Homo sapiens: one gene and its partners. The protein of the gene in region 2 interacts with the protein of the main gene of each other region in a pairwise test. Each region holds a gene or a part of one and is shown on either strand. Other genes may lie near its edges.

The links. The genes of interacting proteins can lie anywhere in the genome.
Region 1: the proteins of RFFL (region 2) and PTGS1 interact in binary tests that used the Homo sapiens proteins (3 or more experiments, as listed by UniProt).
Region 3: the proteins of RFFL (region 2) and KCNIP3 interact in binary tests that used the Homo sapiens proteins (3 or more experiments, as listed by UniProt).

The regions. Positions count from the first base shown.
Region 1 is NC_000009.12:122,366,772-122,374,032, reverse strand, and holds the start of PTGS1 (prostaglandin G/H synthase 1 isoform 1 precursor), read right to left. Parts: upstream 3,010-7,261; 5' UTR 2,949-3,009; coding exon 2,942-2,948; intron 2,848-2,941; coding exon 2,761-2,847; intron 2,421-2,760; exon of another isoform or gene 2,218-2,420; coding exon of another isoform or gene 2,199-2,217; intron 1-2,198. UniProt on the Homo sapiens protein: Dual cyclooxygenase and peroxidase that plays an important role in the biosynthesis pathway of prostanoids, a class of C20 oxylipins mainly derived from arachidonate ((5Z,8Z,11Z,14Z)-eicosatetraenoate, AA, C20:4(n-6)), with a particular role in the inflammatory response.
Region 2 is NC_000017.11:35,060,691-35,067,519, reverse strand, and holds the start of RFFL (E3 ubiquitin-protein ligase rififylin), read left to right. Parts: upstream 1-3,812; 5' UTR 3,813-3,944; intron 3,945-6,829.
Region 3 is NC_000002.12:95,293,328-95,300,355, forward strand, and holds the start of KCNIP3 (calsenilin), read left to right. Parts: upstream 1-4,019; 5' UTR 4,020-4,111; coding exon 4,112-4,126; intron 4,127-7,028. UniProt on the Homo sapiens protein: Calcium-dependent transcriptional repressor that binds to the DRE element of genes including PDYN and FOS. Affinity for DNA is reduced upon binding to calcium and enhanced by binding to magnesium. Seems to be involved in nociception.

The DNA.
Region 1 (7,261 bases), on a different chromosome or scaffold from region 2:
AGGTCCAGGACTGAGCGTGACTAGGGGACAGGCACAGCCAGGGAACACCAAGTCCTCCAGGATGCAGAGGTGTCAGGCTGCAAGATTGCCCAGTGAAGAGGCAGGACCCAAATCCCCTAAAGAGTAATATTTAGAGAGTCTCTGGGGACCTGGCAGCCAGAGAGAAAAAAAAAAAAGGTGGGGAACCCTGACTGGTTTGGCCTGGGCCCCAGTCCCCACACCTAAGCACCACCACACCAGATCCAGACAACTGGGCCCAGCAGCTGGAAGAGCCTGCTGGTGGGGAAGCCCTCTCCCGGCCCACAGACCCAACTGGTGCTGGCGAGAGCAGGTGCAGGCACCCGGGCAGCCTTGGCACAGCTGGCATCTTGCCCCATGTGCCCGGGTCAGCTGGCCTGGGGCTCCTCTGCCTGGCATGCAGCTCTGGTTGCCAGGTCATGCCCTATCCCCATCTAGAAGATGGGCACTGAGTCAAGTCCAGAGACTAGAGGGGAAGTACTTGAGCATTCAGGGCGCCCCCGGCACAGCCTTGCCTCCAGGCTGGCCTCCATCTCCTCACCCACCAGAGAGGCAAAAGCAGCATTCTCTCCCTCCGCCTGCCCTCTTAGGTGAGTGCAGCCCTCATCTCTTCATCTCCTTTGCCTCTAGAGGTAAAAGACAGGCTTTGGCTTCCTGGGGCAGATGCCCAAGTAGCTTGGCCCTCAGTTTACTCGCAGACTTGGAAATATGAGGGCAACCCAGACCTTCTGCCCCTGCACTCCACCAGTCATTCGTTCTTTCCTAGATCCTTGCAGGAGCCTCGGTACCAGTTTTCTGGCCTCCAGTCTCATCCCCACATTACGCATCCAACCTCAGCCTCCTGCTCCACATTACCCTTACGGTGTTTCCTGGTCGAGTCTCTTAGTGTTTCCCCCACCCGCCACCTCCTTCGAGGTCCAGTCCAAAAGTCATCAGATCCAAGAAGCCTCCCTCAATTCTTCGCACTGAGAGGCAGCTGCTCCCTCCCCTGAGCTCCGCACACCCCTGCTCCCTTCCCTGGGCTCCCTATACCCCTGCTTCCTCCCATGAGCTCCGCACAGCCCTGGTCCCCTTGGATGACAGTCTGTTGGCATTTCTGGCTCCACCATCAGCCTGTCAGCTCCTCCCAGCTCCGTGTCTCCAGGCCCCAGCCAAAGACTGGCATAAATAACCCTTGGGGATAAAAAAAAACAATTCCGTGTAAACATTTATTATACAAAAGGAAACAGAAAAGGCAAAAAACAAAATAGCACAGACCATGGCTCATTGTGCATTAGTGAATGGACTAAAAAAGAATACAGACGGGTGGGACCTGTATACCAAGAGTGCCTGGATGAGGCCAGATGGGGCCTCAGAGGAAGTGCTGGGCTGATCCAGGGACTGACAAGATGGGTCAGCGAGGCAACCTGAAGAGCCCCTTCTACTCCCCACCACCAGCTCACTGTGAGGATTCAGACAAGTGGCTTCACTCCCTCTGGGCCTCAGAGTCCCCTTCTGTAGACTGGGTCTAACGCATCTCTCTGGCAGGGCTGTTGAGAGCACCAAAGAGGTGGATGTCCACAACCAACCTTTGTAAACTTTAAAGTGCTGGCCACATGAGTCTTCCTCCTCCTCTTCCCATAAACCAGACTTTTATTCAACGCAATCCCTTTCCTAGAGCACCCTCCGTCCTCTCTTTGGGTCCCCTAAATGCCACCCACCCAAAGCCCGTTTCAGGAAACTTGGTCTGATCCAAAATCCATGTACATATCTTTCCTCTTTCCCCCACGCACCAGATCCTTAGAGCATCACAGCAGAAAGTGCGGACTCCCTCTGCTCCCTCCTGCCCTCTCTGGGCCTCATTTTAGAGATTTTACACAGCTAGGTGGTGGAGGAAACTATATCCAACTGGGACACATGCTCACACACACGCACACACACAAGCAGCGAGCTGGGGGAGGAAGGTTGGCTGAGCGAGGAGCTGAATTCCTTCACCTGGAACCTGGCACATGCATGGGGGAGGGAAGGGCGGAATTTCCCCATCAACCTCCCCCATGAAACCCAGAGTGGCTCCGGGTCCATTGTGGGTAGAAGCAGCTTTCTGTGGAAAGACCTTGCGAAGTGTGTGGACGCAGACAGACCTGAGTTCAGATCCTGGGCCCACCATGTATTTTGTGAGCTTGGGGAATCATGGCACCTACTGAGCCTCGGTTTCCTCATTTGCTCAATGGGGATCTCTTAAACCCCAGATGAAGCATCCCGGCTCCTAAATGTATTTCCATCTCCCATGTTCTCCCGAAGTCTTCACCAGGGGAGACCTTCTCCACTGGCAATGGGAATCAGGATGGGTTCCCAGACGGTTAGAGGCTGGAGAAAGGGAACTCATTTCCCTTGGTGCCTGCGGCTTCCTCCCAAAGAGGCCCCTATAGGAAACAGCGGGGTTGTTGGGTGCAGAGGCTGCTTAGACATCTGGGGCCCAGAACAGGTGAGGGGGATGGATAGGGACTGTCCCTTCTCCCCAAGTTGGCACCAGATCCCAGTCTGCTGTTTCCCCTGAAAGAACTAGATAGCCCATTAGCCAAGGCCACACCGCCGGGGGGGCTTCAGGGAGCCCCCATCCCACCAAAAGACTCAGCCTCAGTCTTTCTCAGCACCGCGAGCAGAAAGGGGAAGCTGGGCCCGCTGGAGGGGAAAGGAGGGGGTTGAAACCAGGCCAGGGGCGCAAGACCGGGGATTCCCTTGGGGAGGGATGGGGCCGCCTACCTGGCGTGGGCGCCCCTGGGTCCGCGAGCAGGACGGGGAGCGGCGGGAGCAGGAGCAGGAACAGCAAGAACCAGAGCAAGAGACTCCCTGCAGAGGAGAGAGATGAGGGGCTGAGCCTGGCATTCAAGGCTCCACCAGGAGGCCAAGAAAATTCCCCACCGGGCACCGGGGTCGCACTCACGGCTCATGGCGCGGCTGCTGGGGTGCGGGACGCAGAGTGCAGGCTCCTGTGCGTGCGCCTCGCACACTGCCCGGAGCTCCAGCCCATCCCCTCCCCACCCTTCCCCCGGCTCCACCCCCGCTCCTCCCTCCAGCTGTCACCTCGGCTGCCCGCTTACTTCCTCTGCCCAGCCCCGGCCAAGGCATTTTATTAATTAGTGTATGCTCGCCGCTAAAGCGGCTTTTCACCCAAGATCCTTGAAGCACTTACGTTTCTGATGCCTGGTGGCACTAGATATAGACAGGAAACTGAGGCTCAGAGACGATGCTCAATGCTGAGGTCACCCAGGGCTTAGGGACAGAACTGGGGATGGAAGCGGCTCGTCTGAACCACATACCCTGCCCCGCAGAGAAGAAAGGGTCTCAGAGTCCCCTTCTGTAAAATGGGTCTAACGCACTCTACAGAAAAGGGTAGAGAAGAAAAGGGGCTAGAAACAGGGCAGTCTGCAGAGAAGAAAGGGGGCTAGAAATGGGGCAGTCCAGCCTGGCCTGCTGATGGTTTCCTAGATGAGAAACTCACTACTCCTCAGACAGATCTAACAGGAAGGACTTACTTCCCCCATGGGCTGGGCTCCGCCCCCTGAAGCCACAGGTCTCTGCCAGAAATGAAAAGACCGGGCTCCAAACTCCAAGAGAGCCTAGTTCAAATCCAGACTCCACAGCTTACTGGCCGTGTCACCTTGGACAAGGTACTTATCTTTTCTAGCCCTCAGTATTCTCATCTATAAAATCGGCTTAATAGCAAAAACCATCCCAGAGGGTGGTTGTAAGATTCAATGAGGGAATGCACACAAATCTCCTGGTGCAGTGTCCAGCATGTAGTAGGTGCTCAGTTATCGGAAGGCATTTTTTCAAAGATCTCTGAACTCAGATTCCAGGGCTGGCCAGGGTCCATGCTGTAGCTAGACTCACATCCACCGCCGAATTTATAGAATCCCAGCATCCAGCTCTCCTTTTCGCCAGCTCAGGAAGCACCTAGAAGGAGGAAGGAATAGGTCCAAGATCACCCAAAGTCCCATGGTGCTGGCACCCACAAGTCATCTCCCTCAGTTTCCCCAGCACACCCAGCCATCCTGTGGGCCCCACAGTGGGGAAAGCCGGCAGGAGAGCTCAGAGGTTCTTGTGCTGGCTCCTGGGCATCACTGGGTGCAGGGTAGAAATTATGCCAGGTGGGAGAGGTGAAACCTGCTGGGAAGCCCCTCCCCCATTCTCACCCAAGCTGTTCCCATGCTCCCCTGGGACAAAAGCCAGCTGCCCTAGGGAGACAGAGCAAGCCAGGGCAGACCTGGAGAAGGAGTGGGGCATTGGAGGGCCCTGGGGCTCTCAGGGTGCCGGGACCGGCTTCAGCCTTCCCTTCCTCCCCAAATCAAGGGCCCCCTAGCATTTACAGGGCAAGGAGATGGGATTATCAGCAAAAGGGATGGGGACAGGGTGGAGGTGTGGGGGTCCAGTTGTCCAAAGAAAGGGGGAGTTTCTGGTGAGAAGAAAGGAGAGACGGGCTTGAATGAGGTTCCATCTTCCACTCCCAGGCCCTCCCTCCCTTTGGGCCCTGAGCCCATCAAGTCACCACACCTGTGCCTCCTGCTGACTTCCAAGCCACCCATCTGCACTCAAAACAAGAAACACTTGTGTGGCCCTGGCACTGATGGGAAGAGCCTTCACCTCAGAATCAGAAGTGAGTTCAAGTCACTTCTTCCATAGCGTGACCTTAAACAAGCCGCTAGGCCTCACTGGGCCTCTGTTTCCCCATTTGAACAACAGAATGAGCAGATCAGATGGTCTCTGAGGACTGGTCCAGTTCCAGCATGGAGCAATTGAGCCCTCACTGCAGCCAGGCTCTGTGACCAGCACCACAGATCTCAACACAGCTGCAATACAGGAGAGGATGGAGTCTGAGAGAGCAGGCAGGGTGCCGAGGCAGCCCTCCAGGGATGAGGCAGGACCAAGAGCATGGAGTGGGGAGAAGGTAGATGAGAGAAATGGTGGCAGAAGTGCCAGGGCTTGGTGACCGATTAGCACTAGAGCTTAGGGGAAGAAAGGTGCTGAGGACACCTAGCCTTCTGGCTCAATGCTGGTGGTAATATCCAGGGAAGGGGAGCTGGCATGGGTAGGTGGAATTTGAATTTGGGCTTCTTGTATTTGATCCACTTCAAGGAATGAGGAGGATCAAACCTTCCCTGCCTTCTCCAGCTTGGCCCATGGGCCAGCACCCCCAACCGCCCCAGCATGCAGCTGGATACACAGGGGAGAGGTCTGGGGTAGCCCTTGCCCCAGCCCTGGGAAAGAGACCACAGCACAGGGCCACCTTTTCCTGCTCCCTACTGCAAAGCTATAGTCTAAATGCCTAGGACTGGTGTCACCATCCTAGTCCTCAAGATTGTGAGCTTCCACTTATAGGGCAAGTCCACCTCCCATGTCCCCTGGTAGGCCTCCTCTAACATGCCTCCTCCTCCCCCTTCTCTCCTCTAGGAAGCCCCTGTGCCTTCCCTGGCCACAGCAGTGCCACTCCTGATCACATTGTCCCTCTGCCCCCAAACATTATGAGGCTATAAGAGTCCTGGTCACTCTTGTAGCCCCAAGGCCAAGCATAGGATCTGGCGGATAAAAGACATCCAGGGAATGTTTGTTGCTTGAACAAAGAAATGAATGAGTATCTAAAAGAGTAGTGAATGCATTAAAAAAACAGACCAGGTCCAGCACCAGCCTCATCGAAGTGACTGCCAACCACCCATCTGCTGTGACGGCCACCAAAAGTATCACTGCCTGCCTCAGTTTCCCTGCCTTCTCCAGCTTGTCCCATGGGCCAGCACCCCCAGCTGTCCCACAGGCCCAGCTTCACCCCAGGCCCTGAGCCCTTCCCAGCTAAGGCAGCAAGGACCTCCTTCCCTATACCCCACTGGTAACAAGGGATAGGATTTCTCTCTGCATAGCCCCCTCCCCATTATCCACACCAATCACGTGCCCTCCTGCTCACCCTAGCTACAGCCTGGATTGTAATGCTCCTGGAGAGGTCTCACTCCTGCTGGGCCCCACCCACTATTTGGAAAACCAGAGCTGACTCTTACCTGAATCACTCATGGACCCAGCCCCACCCGGCCCCACCTGTGTAGGCAGCTTCTCAGTCAGGCAGGAAGGCTCTGGACTCAATCCAATATCTCTTCAAATCCCAGTCCTCCACCCCACCTGACCTCTCAGTGTGACCTTAAGCAGCAAACTGCCCTTTGTGGACCTCAGTTCCCCCACCTGTAAAAACGTGGTTAATAATGCCACTCTTGCAAGAGTTGTTGTGAGGATGAAGTAAGATAGTCCCTGTGAGCATCCCCAGCATTCAGTAGGAGCTCAATGCTAGTTCTTTATTGGCCCTCGCTTCTACTCCCTACCTGAGCAAGAGGGTTGCATGAAAAATTCCCTTCCTCCTCCTCTTTACCTACTCAGAACCAGGCTAGGGTTGACCATTGGAGGTAATAATAATAATGGCTAATATTTCTTGAATATCTACTATGTGCAGGGTAGAATGCTATGTGTTTTAAATGCACTGTTACATGTGATTTTTCTCAACAACCTTATAAAGTCAGTATCATCACTTCCATTTACAGAGAAAGAAAGTGAGGCCCAGTGTTGAAGCAGCTTGTCCAAGATGCACAACCAGTAAGAGTCAGGTTTCAAGGCCCAACCCTTTTGTTCTGGAATACCGGGTACCTGTACCCAAGCCCCAGCATAACCAACGAGTGTTTGAAGTTAAAAGGAAACAGAAAGGCTCGCTAGGGTGGTAGTCGGCTTGTGGAGCGATGTGTGGGATCCAATTTAAGCAACATAGTTCAGCTGAGAAGCTGAGAACTGAGAGTCACAAAATAATGTTTTGGTTTTGGTTTTGGTTATTTTTTGTCAGGGTCTCACTCTGTTGCCCAGGCTGGACTGCAGTGGTGCGAACTTGGCTCACTTCAGCCTTGATCTCCTGGGCTCAGGTGATCCTCCTACCGCAGCCTCCTGAGTAGCTGGAACTACCGGGTGCATATCACTATGCCCAGCTAATTTTGTTTTATTTGTTTTTTTGTAGAGACGGGGGTCTCACTATGTAGCCCAGGCTGGTCTTGAACTCCTGGGCTCAAGTGATCCTCCCACACTGGCCTCCCAAAGTGCTGGGATTACAGGCATGAGCTACCACACCCGGCCTACCAAATGCGTTTACATCCCTTTCTCATGGAAACCCTCACAATTGCTGGAAGAAGAAGGTATCATGATCCCCATTGTGCAAAGAGGAAAATGAGGCTCAAAGATGTCC
Region 2 (6,829 bases):
GTGCCACTGCACTCCAACCTGGGCGACAGAGCGAGACTCTGTCTCAAAAAAAAAAAAAAAAAAGGCTTGGAAGAGAGAGATACTTATTAAAAATTCAGTTTTGGCCAGGCATGGTGACTCACGTCTGTAATTCTAGCACTTTGGGAGGCTGAGGCAGGTGGATCACCTGAGGTCAGGAGTTCGAGACCAGCCTGGCCAACATGGCAAAACTCTGTCTCTACTTAAAATACAAAAATTAGCCAGACATGGTGGCATACGCCTATAATCCTAGCTACTTGGGAGGCTGAGGAAGGAGAATTGCTTGAACCCAGGAGGTGGAGGTTGCAGTGAGCTGAGATTGCACCATTGCACTCCAGCCTGTGCGATGAGAGTGAGATTCCGTCTCAAAAAAAAAAAAAAAAAATTCAGTTTCTGGGGCCTCCCTCCATGTCTGCTAATTCAGAGTGTCTGAGGGACTGGGATGAGAAATGTTCATTTTCAATAAGCACCCCTGTTGATTCTTAAGTACCCCTAGAGTTAATTGTTGAGTATCATAAAGTTTACTTCATTTTTCATGTTTAATTTCTGTGATTTATTAGATGATAAATATTTGGTTGCCATCATATTGTTTTTCTTAAATACTATGTTCTATAGTTAAAAAAAAAAAAAGGCTGTGAGGTCACTGAACACCAAGATTAGAATTTGGCAATCATTAATTATCAACAAGGTGAGACAGGCACTGATTCCTGGAAATGTGCATTTATCCATTCACCGACTTCTCAGTTAGAAAAAGGATGTGGACACAAGTAAGATTAATTTTGTTAAAAACAAGAAATGTGCAGTATCATTTAGGATGCTGGGGGTAGGGAAGTAGATAAAAGGGAGATGTTGAGAGGAAAGAGTGTGAAGAGAGAGTAAAGCAGTTTGTAAGTGATACAAACTTTAAAATTTTAACTGAATTTTAAACTACCAAGTCATATTTGAATATATGCTTGTTGTAAAAAAATTCATGATTTTTGGGGGGTAATTTGGATAAAGCTAAACATAGCTATTTGATCTTTATTCCCATTACAGTGCTCTCCCTGCTGTGTGCATCCTCCCAGATCTTCTGTATGTATTTGGTAATTTTCTGTGGATTTGGAAGACTACAGAATCCTGAGAAATGGATATTTTAATTTCTCTTTTGAAACCTGCTTATTGTTTATAATGTCAAGATCTATTGCAGAAAAGAAAGTAAATCTGGGATGTCAATGACATCACATATGTCTGTTCAAATGAAACAATGGGCACATACACATATGCACACTCATTAAATATCTGTTGAGACCACCCTATTAAAAAAAGCATAAATAGTTTTGGGTGTTAAGTTACTTGAGTTTTAAAATAACGTATTTTCTGTTTTTGTTGTTTTTTGTTTTGAGATGGAGTCTCCTTCTGTCGCCTGGGCTGGATTGCAGTGGCGCAATCTCGGCTCTGCAACCTCTGTCTCCTGGGTTCAAGTGATTCTCCTGCCCCAGCCTCTAGAGTAGCTGGGGTTAGAGGTGTATGCCACCATGCCTGGCTAATTTTAAAATAATGTATTGAAAGAACTTAGTCAGAAAGCCACAGTTATTATTTCTCCCATAGCCTCATATTCTCATAATTTTCATGTAACCTCATAAATCCTCAAGTGCCTGAAACCACTAGTTCAAACGAGTACCTTTTTAAGCTCTAAAATGTAATCCTCAACCTTTCCACTTTAAAAGGAAGAACTAGGATGGAGTGTGGCTATAATTTGGGGCAGTTGGTTAAAACTGTATCAGAGTCCCAAAGAGGGGAATGATAAGCTGCAGCAGCTCTGTTCACTTGCTCAATGGTGTTTCTCTTAGTCAACTTAGGAGTTCCATGCCTTTGGCCTTCAGGCTGCTCTTTATATAGTTCGTATCTGTCTCCTGGGCATAGTACTGTCTGGATTTTCTCTTTCTTTTTTTTTTTTTTTTTTTGAGACGAAGTTTTGCTCTGTTGTTGCCCAGGCTGGAGTGCAATGGCACAATCTTGGCTGACTGCAACCTCTGCCTCCCGGGTTCAAGCGATTCTCCTGCCTCAGCCTCCCGAGTAGCTGGGATTACAGGCATGTGCCACCACACCTGGCTAATTTTGTATTTTTAGTAGAGATGGGGGTTTCTCCATGTTGGTTAGGCTAGTCTTGAACTCCCGACCTCAGGTGATCCGCCCACCTCGGCCTTCCAAAGTGCTGCAATTATAGGCGTGAACCGCTGTGCCCGGCCCTCTTATTTAAAGTTCGCAAATACAGAACAGGTCAGGAGCTTTTCTAATCATTTTTTTTTTTTCTGAAGGAGGTTCCATATTTGTCTGTACCTTGAGAGTTGTTTCATACTAGAATTTGTAACTTATCATCAACTACAGAAATTTTTTTTAAAGTGTGGTTGAAGAGATAATGGTTGTCAGCTGCTATAAAGATGTGTTTATCATTCAGAAAGGACTAATTAACATGTACTATAGGGAAACTTCTTTAAACAAAGCCATTTTCTGAAAGGAAAACACTGAAGGGGAGGAAATAAAACAGGGAACATTTTATAATACCTTATCAAAGCTCAGCGTGGCTATCCTACTGGAATAATGTAATTAAGGAGAATTAAGTGAGTTGGATAAATAACTTTTTAAAACTAGCCCCTTGAATAGAAAATTAAGTAGTATAGTTTTTAAACTCAAATTCTGTCTGCACGTACATTTTAATTAACCTAACATTATTGAATGACAAGCTGAGTTGGCAGCTACATCCAGAGTTCATGCCATGTGAGACCTACCTTAAAGGATGAACGAAGCTGGGTGCAGAGGCCTCAAATGCCCTGCTAAGAAATAGCTGATGGCCTTGGGGAACTGTCATACATTTTAAGCAGGAAACAGAAGGATCTAATAGGAACTTTAGTTTCTCTCTTGTCAAATTAAAGCACACAAAAAGCAAGGACTTGATCTTTTTTTTTTTTTTTTGTATAACACCAATGTCAATTCTAGCCTGTCAGGGCAAATTCAGTAATTAATAGCTGTTGATGAGCCAGTCATTCTAGATTGATTTTTTAAATAAGCAGGCTAATAAATGAGAATTGACATAAATTTAGGGATGTCTCTTTTCAGAGCAAGTGTTAAGGTGATTTTCATAGTCTTCTGTATTCCCTATGCATCCAGTAGGTGTGATGGTAAATGATTTGGCTTTAGCATAGAGAATGTGGCAGCTGATTAAAAAAAAAAAATTCCAGTGCATCTATCTTAATGAGAGAACTTGAGTTGTCTGAAGAAATAGAGAGGTCAGAGGAGGCCTAGTGGGAAAAAAGAACAATGAGCCTGGTTAGAACTGACAAAAATTCACCCTAATGATTTGACTGGCTAATGATGACTGGGCAAGTTCCCTGAGTCCACTGACCCAGATGTTCTAATTTGTAAATGCAAAGTGACTTATTTATCAGCCTCCTGGGGAAATCTTCAGAGCTGTGAACCTGCTATGTTCAGTAATCTTGCTGGCCCCAGCCCCAGCCTGTTCTCAGATGAAATTTTAGAAACTGGCCACTGGAACTTTTTGGGTAAGGGCTCTGGAGGTGGCCAAGTTACCAGTAGTGGGGGAATGAGGTTTACCTGCCCCCAGTAATCAGCACTTGATTTAAAACAATCAGTGAGCTGCCTCTTCTTTCCTAGGTTGCAGTTGACTGCGGTTGGTTCAGGCTGAGTTGTTTGGGAAGTACAAATTTTGCCCAGCGTGAGTCAGCACTGCCCTGGGTAAACTCCCTGCTGTGTTGCAATCTTGCTTACCAAAGATACATCCCCAGGCGGCACCATTCACTTCACATGAAAGCCGCTGCTCTTGGTTCCTGAGATGATCTCATCTGAACATGGCTCCAGCGACCTCAGCCACAGGAACTAGAGACAGCTTGCTTTCTGTCGTGGCAATGTTTTGAAACTGGCAAAATCAGGTAACCTCAAACTGTTTTCTTAAGTTTCATTAGCTAGATGAAGCTGCATTAGAAACTGGGAAAATCCTGTCTTCAGAAGTGAGTCAGGTTTTTTTTTTTTTTTTTTTTTTTTTTTTTTTTGAGACGGAGTTTCACTCTTGTTGCCCAAGCTGGAGTGCAATGGTGTGATCTCGGCTCACTGCAACCTTCACCTCCCGGGTTCAAGTGATTCTCCTGCCTCAGCCTCCCAAGTAGCTGGGATTATAGATGTGCGCCACCATGCCCGGCTAATTTTGTATTTTTAGTAGAGACAGGGTTTTGCTGTGTTGGTCAGTCTGGTTTCGAACTCCCAAGCTCAGGTGATCCACCCTCCTCAGCCTCCCAAAGTGCTGGAATTATAGGCATGAGCCACGGCCCCCGGCCAGAAGTTTTCTTTCATTTGAGTTCTGGATGTGGAGTTAGGTCCAATTAAATCACTGATTATATAAATCTTAGAAAAGTAAAACGTTAGGTTTACAGCTTTATCCGTCATTTGCTCTTGTATTTTGTTTTTTTGTGTGTATCTTGTGAGAAACACTTTAGTCAAACTAAGCCATTGTTAAAGGAAAAGAAGTGAAGGCATTTGGTTGCCTTCCTAATAACTAAATATTGAGTTGTGGAGAACACTGTCTTATCAGTGAGTTTGTTCCCATATTCCTTTCTGAATTAATAGGAAGAACCTCCCTCATCTCTAATTCTACTAGGCTACTACTCTATCTCCCTCCTGCTTTTCATCGCCAAACTTTTGAGTCCTTCACCTAATCAGACTATGATATCTCTAGGTAGTCGTCACCCTCCAAATTACGTTTCTGCTCCTTATAATTCCAACAAATTGCCCACGTTCTCTTTCACCTCAGACCTTAGCATATGTAAGCGTTCTTTTACACACCTTCCCCAAGCTTAATCTGGCCAACTGGTTTCAGCCTAGAAGTCACCTCTTCCATGAAGCCTCTTCTTACTTACCAGGGTTGAGTACTCAGGAGAACCTGGTATTTACTCCAATCATAGTATGTATTGAGAATCAGGGTCTGCTTTGCTAGAATTGTATCCATGGTACGTTGCACATAGTAGGTTCTCAGTAAGGGTAGAATGAGCAAGAGCCTGTACTGTACTTTCTCAACTCTGATCCTCTCATCAACTCTTTTTTTTTTCTTCTGAGAGGAATCTTGCTCTGTCACCCAGGCTGCAGTGCAGTGGTGTGATCTTAGCTCACTGCAACCTCTGCCTTCCTGGTTCAAGCGATTCTCCTGCCTTAGCCTCCTGAGTTGCTGGGACTACAGGTACGTGCCACCACGCCCAGCTAATTTTTGTATTTTTAGTAGAGACAGTGTTTCACCATGTTGGCGAGGATGGTCTCGATCTCTTGACCTCATGGTCCACCTGCCTTGGCCTCCCAAAGTGCTGGGTTTACAGGTGTGAGCCACCGCGCCCGGCCTTGTTCATTCTTTTTATGCTCACATCTTTAAATGTGCTAAACCCTGTTGATTTTGTTGGAGTACTGTTTGATGTGTGGCTTTTCTTCATTCCCACTGTCATTGCCTTAATTTACCAGAGGTCAAAACTGGACGTTTAAAGTCAGGCTGGGCACGGTGGCTCACGCCTGTAATCCCAGCACTTTGGGAGGCCGAGGTGGGCAGATCACCTGAGGTCAGGAGTTTGAGACCAGCCTGGCTAACATGGTGAAACCCCATCTCTACTAAAAACAAAAAATTAGCTGGGCGTGGTGGCACGTGCCTATAATCCCAGTTACTCAGGATGCTGAAGCAGGAGAATCACTTGAACCCAGGAGGTGGAGGTTGCAGTGAGCGAGGATCACACCACTGCACTCCAGCCTGAGCAACAGTGAGACTCCATATCAAAAAAAAAAAAGAGTTTGAGACCATCCTGGCCAACATGGTGAAACCCTGTCTGTATTTAAAAAAAAAAAAAAAGGCACGCCACGCATGGTGGCCAGTGCCTGTGGTACCAGCTACCCAGCAGGCTGAGAAAAGAGAATTGCTTGCACCCAGGAGGTGGAGGTTTCAATGAGCTGAGATTGTGCCACTGAACTCCAGCCTAGGCACAGAAGAAGACTCCATCCCAAAAATCAATCAGTCAGCCTAAGGGCTTAAAATTTTGTGTGTGAATACTTTTAGGCACCATCAGAGAGAAGGCCTGTACTCTTCAAAGATTACGGATACCACCATTTTCTGACATCTTACACACTGAAGACTTAGCATTTTACCTGCATTGCCTCTAGGAATTTGAGTTTGTAACTCCTAGTTCAGACCCTTATCAAATGGCCACTCCTCCATAAGTCTTTCCTTGCTCCTATCTTCTCCATATTGTTGCCCAAGTTATCTTTTTAAAGTCCACATCTAATCTTTTCATTTAAGGTGCCATTTGTTCCCTGTTTTCCACTTAGCTTGACTTCTAAAAGCTTTCACAGTTGGATTCTTTCCTACATGTTGCTGTTAACCATCTCATCTCCCTCTCCCCTGGCCATTTCTCTCCTCTCCAGCTTCACTGAACTTCTCATGTTAACATTCCATGGATATACCATGTCTTTTAGGACTCTGCCTTTTCCCAATGGACTCTCCCTTCTCTAACTGGCAAGATACTCATCCCTCAGGACACTTAGTTCATATATGCATCTTCTCTGACTTCTCTGTCTTTTCTGACAGACAGCACTGTCTGTCTCTTCCACTAGACTGTTGAGTTCTTTGACTGAACTTGGTGTCCCTGGACTAGAGCTTGGCACCATCAGAGAGAGTGGCTGACGTGGATCTCCGGGCTCAAACCGTTATTCTTTGCAATATTAGAAGCTTTTTTGTTAGATGGCATGGTTTTTCATTCCTATTTGATGAACATGAGCCCATGGCTGCTTA
Region 3 (7,028 bases), on a different chromosome or scaffold from region 2:
CACTCATCCGTCTTACAAATGCTGACCGAGAACTGCAGCTCGGATGAGGAGGGATGGAGGGGGTGTGCAGAGGGTGGGGCCCCGTCCGAGCCCTTGGCTTCTGCCCACGAGTGAAGCAGAATTTAGGGAAGAGGTGGCTGAGCCCCTACCCACACTAAGGGCTGGAGTGGGAGCCAAGGAGTCAGGCGCTGAGGTTAGAGGAGGGAGGTTTCAGAGAGGCGAGCTGAGTCCAAGGGGTGCGGTCGGCCGCCCTCTCTTCACTTCAAGCTGCAAGGAAAGGGGCTTTAAAGAAAGCCGCCAGAGAGCTTCACCGTGTCCCCTGCAGTTTAATAAATCCCTTGGACTGATGCCTCACCCACTGCAAAGTCTAGAGGGCAGTCAGGCTGGCTGCATTGAAGGCGGAGCTAAGGAGAGGGCTGGCGGCCCAGGTGAGGGCCTCCTGTGAGAGACAGCATGGAGTCTCCTAGGTCCAGTCGAAGGAGGCTGCCCAGAGAGTGAACCGACCTCAGCCAAGAGGAGGCAGAGCTGCCACTAAGTATTGGGGGCTTATGGGTCCCCTGAGGCCCATGTGAAACACTCTAGTCAGGGGACCATGGGGCCAGGCTCTTAGGACCCTTGGAGGAGCCCACAGAGAAAGAGGGACAGCTCTCAACCTCTGCAAACCCAGAGCGCAGCTCAGCCAGAGGCTGCCATGCCCACTGCCTGCCCCAAGCTGCCACCCCCAGGCCTGAGCTGGGTGGGGAGCAGGAGAGTTGATGATGGCATGGGCTTCGATGGGGGCTGAGCCTGTGTTTTGTGATGTGAAGTGATGAGGACCATTTGTATTTTCTTACCAAGATGCACCCAGCTGGCGAGGCTTTCTCTCTCTCTCTCTGTCTCTCTCTCTCTCTCCCCCCTGTACCCCTCAGCTCTCTCTCTCTCCCCCTGTACCCCTCAGCCAGGGCCCAACAAAAAATAGGGCCTAAGGAAAAGAGCCCTGGGCTGGGGCTCCACAGAGTTGCGTTTGGAGGCCTGGGGAGGAGGGACTTGAATTTGGGCCTGGAATGTGGGATCATGAGCAACAATGGAGGAAGGCGCAGAGGCCCCCAAGACCTGTGGGCATGAGCACCATGAGCCGCTCGCCCGGGGAAGGACAAGAATGAAGGCCCTGGTCAGCTGAAACAGCCCACGACTGCCTCCTGAAACACTGTGACGAGAGAAAACCCGACCTTCATCCGGGCTTGAAATCATCCCTTCCTTTCCCACTTCCAAACTCCCCCCAGCCTCAGTTTCTCCCCACAGCCCCTATGTGAGGAAACCACAGTGGGAAACACAGGGCTGAAGCGTTCCTAGTGGACAAGACCAGGTCCTTCCACAGCCTCCTTAACCTTCTGTGGGTCTGATATACCGCAGAGAATACTGGGAATTGCCAAGGCCGTCTCTGGGAAGTCTGCAGATGCCCGTGTGCCCACAACAGGTCCGCCTCTGAGGCCCATGTGGGAGTCCAGCCCCCTTTCTCCTCCCCTTCTCATTCCTGTGTTCCCCACAGGCCCAGGGGAGGGACCCAGCTGGAAGCACTTGGGGCCCTGGATAGGCCACTGAGGAAGGGGGGTGTGGTGGCAGGGTCACATACGCCCCACATCTGTATGAGGGGTGTCCACCCAGGTGCTAGCTGCAGTGGGAGGTTCGCAAGGCCCGAACAGCCGGTGGGTCCAGCAGAGCAGGGCAGTTGTCCCAGGCCCGCGGTGTCACGGCTGGTGAACTCCGAGGACAGCGCATCTGAGTGTGGGATGTCAGCGAGTGTGCCAAGCAGGGGCGAGCAGCTCTTGGGGGTGCTGCTGTGATGAGTGGGTTCCTCTGCTCCTGACTCCTCCGGCCAGGCCGTCAGGAAGACCAGCCCATCACGGCAGTGCAGTCACCAAGTTTCCAAGCTGCTGTGTAAGCCGTGGGCATAGAACCGCCAGCGGGATCTCAGCATCCACGGTGCTCACTCTAGGAAGAAGGCAACAGGCTTTGGGACCTGGCTTTACCACTCCCTAGCCTGTGACTTGGGCCAGTCTTTTAGCTTTTCTGGGTCTCACCATTATCATCTGTAGAGTGAGATAATTACACTTTTCTCCCAAGGTCACTATGAGGACTCAAAATGCTCAATGCGTCCCTGCTTGCGGAGGCGAGGCTTGCTCAGAGTCAGGAGGGCAGGACTGTCTCAGGCAGTGAAAGGAGGATGGGGCTGGGCACGGTGGCTCATGCCTGGAACTCCAGCACTTTGGGAGGCAGAGGCAGGTGGATCACTTGAGCCCCAGACTTTGAGACCAGCCTGGGCAACATAGTGAGACCCCATCTCTACGAAAAAATACAAAAATTAGCCGTGCATGGTGGCATGAGCCTTGTAGTCCCAGCTACTTGGGAGGCTGAAATAGGAGGATTGCTTGAGCCTGGGAGGTCAAGGCTGCAGTGAGCCATGATCATACCACTGTACTCCAGCCTGGGTGAGAGAGTGAGACCCTGTCTCAAAAAAAAAAAAAAAAAAAAAAAAAGCAGATGAGCTCCCAGGATGCCGGCCCTGAGCTGGCAGCCATGAAGGCGCTTGCCTCCCTCCACTTCCTAGGGTGCAGTGTGGGTGGGGCGGGGGCAGCTAGGGAGTCCTCCGGGCTCTGCCGAGCCCCTTCCCCAGTGTGAAGTCCAGCCTGTTCTGAAGTCGCACAGGGCCAGACACCTGGGCTGCCACCTCCCCTCTGGAAACAGTCCTCCTTGCCTCGGTGGGTCGACAGCTCCAGGCTATTTTCTTCCCCTGAGGATCTGAAAGTTGGAGGTAATTGGTTGGCTCAAAAAAAAAAAAAAAAAAAAAGGAAAAGGGCATGCAAGCACAATTGTGCAGGCTGCAAAGGAGGGAGGCATCCTAGGGCTTCGTCTCCATGGGAACTACTGGCACAGGCTGGCTCCTCTGGGCTCCAAAAAGGGAAACTTGGCAAAGGTTTCAGGCACCTGGCTCCTGAGTGGTTTGCTTGGGGGCCAAGCAAATGCCCAGGAGCTGCCCGCCCAAGGGACAGGACACAGCCCCCTCTCTCAGGGATGCCTGGGAGCCCTCGGCCCCATCCTTCACCCTCACACCCCAGGAGATCCCGTCAGGTCCTCAGCCACCCTGGATGCATCCTGACTTGGGAGCTGGGAGGGGACCCAGCACAGCTGGAGAGCATGAGCAGGTCATGCTTTGGGGAGACACCCGTGCTTCGAGGCCCTCGGATGGGTGAATGGGAGGTAGTTAATAAGGGACAGATGAAAGAGGTGGAAGGACCCTGAGTGTCACCCTGCTGATGTAGCCCTGGTGGCTGTTGCTGTTTCTAGGATGTGAGCCCCAGACCAGCACCTTGCAGACCAGCACCTCAGGCCAGGACCCTGAGAGAGGACGCTTCAGATGCTGGGTGCAGTGGCTCCCTGCTGTCCTGGGGGCCCCTTGGGCTGAGATCATCATAAGGGTGGCACTGTCCTGTGTCTGTGAAGAGTGGCAGGCGGGACTGGGGCAGTGGGGGTGTCCTGGCTTGTTCTGGAAAATACCTCCAGGAATGATCCCTTCCTTTTCCACTTCCACAGTCCCTCCTGGGCACTCTGGGTTCAACTGCTGCTCCTCCCCACTTCTTGGGGCAGAAACTCCTGCCCTGAACTCCCCTCTCCCCAGCCCCAGCTCCCTGCACCCTCTACCCCCATTCCTCCTTGGTGACCAAAAAGGGCAAGGAGCAGAGAAAGAGGCAGCGGGCAGGGGAGGCACAGAGAGCCGCTGGTGACAGGGTAGGGGAGAGGCCAGGAGAGCCAGACAGAGGCTTGGACAGGCTCTGAGAGACCAGGATTAGGGGCCATGGAGAGAGAGAGAGAAAGAGGGGAGAGAGAGAGAGAGAAAGAGGGGAGAGAGAGAGAGAGAGAGAAAGAGAGAAAGGGAGGGAGCGAGGAGGCAGAGGGGTGGAGCGATAGAAGCCGGCAGGGAGGAAGGGGTGGGCAGGGGGAGGGCGAGAAGCCGCCGTTGACAATTACGTCTGGGTCCAAGCAAACATGAGGCAGCTGCCAGCCGGCCTGGGCAGTCTTGTCTGCCTCGGCTGTGAAGTGGGGAGGCTGGCAACAGTTTTCTTCAGCGCCCAGGATGCAGCCGGCTAAGGTAGGTGCTGGGGGAATGGGGTCTTGCTCTGGAGGGGGGTCGGGGGGAGGAATGGAGGCTTCTGGGGGTTGCTCTGGACCAGGAAGCCTTTTTCTTTGACCCTTGTCCCCTCTTGTTCCACTTTCCTTTGGGGAAAGTGAGCGTTGGGGCGTCCTGGCTGGCGCTGGGGTGTCCTGGCTGGTGTTGGAGTGTCCTGGCTGGCGTTGGGGTGTCCTGGCTGGTGTTGGGGTGTCCTGGCTGGGAGGCTGAACTCCTAGGGCTCCCTTTGGATGGGAGAGGTTTATAAGTGTTTGCGGAAGAAAAGCTGGACAGAGGAGGAGCTTGGGGTCAGCCCACGACTCATCCTGCTCAGTTAGGTCCCTGGGTCAGGTGCCAGCGTGGCTGACACTGAGCCCGGGCCCCACAGCCTTCAGGTTTGGGGGAGGGGTGAGCCTGGGAGGGAGTCACTTGTGCTTGGAGGTTGGTCAATGAACGCATCTTCTAATCAAGCAATCAAGTAACGAATGAGTGCCCACTTCCTCTGAAAGGGCTAGGAGCCCCTAACAAGAGCACTTCCCACACATTCCCTTTCAGTAGGGCTGTGGGGAGGTCAGAGAGAGAATGCAAGGAAAACGCCTGGCACAGAGTTTGAGAAACAGTGGTGGGGAACAGGGAAGGGTGAAGAATTAAAGGAGGAATGAGGGAAGGAGAAATAAGCTGGCCCTCCAGCCTCTAGCTGACTCTCAAAAGGTCTGGCCTGATGCCCTGTGAGCTGCTCACACATTCAGGATAGTTCAGGTCTGGCTGCTCATAACAGAACGCCCCAAATAACAGTGGATGGAACAAGGTTAGCGGGGTTTCTCTCTCATGCAGAAGTCCAGAGGGGCAGTGGAGGGCTGGCTTGGAGGCCGCCTGATCAGCAGCATTTCAGGCCTGCCCTGTATCACCCCTGAGGTTACCTTAAGGTGCAACATAACTGCTGGAGCTCCAGCCAGCACACATGGGCTCATACTGACATATGAGCAGGAAGGAGAAAGAAAGAAGGGCAAAAGGACCCAGAGACAATCAGGGTCTTGAATGTAGGAAAGAAGGGATATGGGGTTGGCACCTCAGCGTCTCTGCCCTGAACAGATGGCTTCCTGCCTCTTTCATCTGTGAGGACAAGCATCCAAGCATGGGCGGGTGGCTGGCTTGGACCACACTGCCCCCAAACCCCAGGCCTCCCTTGTGCTATCTGCTCCATCTTCCAGGGTGCCAAGAGGATCAGCTGAGGTGATGGCATGAAGCCCTTTGAGCATGGCAACACTACACATGGAAAATGTGCCTTCTCTCCTGTCACCTCAAGTCTCCCCAGCAACCACCATGCAGGCAGGGCAGAGTGGAGAAACGTAGCGCCTTGCCCCAGGCTCACACACTACGGCGTCAGGGTGCACAGTGCAACCGTGCCCATAGGCAGAGACACATTGAGCGACCCTGCATGACTACAGAGATGGGAATTTCCAGAGTCAGGCTGCACACAGATGTGCACACAGCCAGCTCTGACCTCCAGCAGAAGACAGTCCTCCCCTCCTTTGCCTTTCCTCTGCGGGCCTTAACTGCCAAAGGTCACTCTGGGAGCTTGGCCACTCCTGCCCCTGCCAGACTGGCAGAGTGGGTGGCCTGAGTCCTGCACTTACATCTGGTTCTTCCCTTGGCCATTGTGACCCCACACTGCGCTCTACCCTCCCACAACCAGCTCCTGGGCCCCAGTGGGTCTCACTGTCCTTATGTCTGCTGGTGGCCTTCCTGTGGCTGGCCTGGCCAGGGAGGGGAGTGGGACCCACACCTCCTGGTGCTGGGCCCAGCAGAGACAGTGGTCCTAGGAGAAGCCACCATTAGGTTTCTCATCAAGATCAATGGGAGATTGTGAAAAATAACCTTCCTCTCTTGTGGCAGCAGGGACTGTAGTCAGAGCTCAGGTTGGGAGGTGTTCTGACTCCTCAGGGTCACGGTCAGTGGCTGTCCCCCAGTAACGCCCCATGACTGCCCGGCTCCCTAGCCTACTCCCCAGCCATTCATGAATTCTCACCTCACTCCTATGGGGAGGCGGGGAGGCACTGCCATTCCTATTCTAGACACTGAGGCTCAGAAAACTGGAACAGCTCCAGGACTCCATGAGCTTGATCCCATGAGCTCTTAGGAGAAAGGAGCGAAAGACCCGCAGTTTCTGCGACAGGCGCTGCTGTCGCGGTGTTGAGGCTGTGGTGTCTTCACAGCTCAGCCCGTGCACTGGGAACCCCTTTTGCCTGGCTTCCAGCCTTGTTGCAGGGCACTGTGCGAGATGGGCCCTAATTTGCTCCCACATTTCAAAAGACCCCAGGCTGCACTGGGAAGAAAGGGGCTCTGCCTCAGCCCTCCAGGTAGAGCCCAGGAGAAGGGCAGAGCTGAGAGCCAGAAGCCTGAGGGTACCAACGCCCATCTAGGACATTGTCTCCCGCATTATCTCCCTGGACCCTCACGCAGCCCACAAGGCAGCTGTTGGTATCATCCCCACTTCACAGATGGGGAAACAGAGGCCTGCCCCAGACTGCAGGCTACAAGAGTTGTGGCTGAGATTTGAACCCTGCTCTGTCTTACTCCAGAGCGCAGCAAGTCCCTAGGGCTTGGGGGTTGCGGAAGAAGACGCAGGAGGAGAAGGGCATGCCTTTAACCAGATGGCAGAGGAGGGGCCCATCCCAGCCGTGCGGCCGGTGGTCTGTTGTGCCCTCTGAGCCCTCCAGTGAGTGCACACAAGCCAGACTCCACCTGGCCGCATCCCCTGCGTTAGCCACGTGACCTGGAGCTAGCTGCCTCCCATTTTTGGACTGTGGATCCAGAGCTAGGAAGTAAAGGACCCCAACATTTTAAATTCAGGCTGCCTTGTCTTATCAAGACCTTCTGTGTG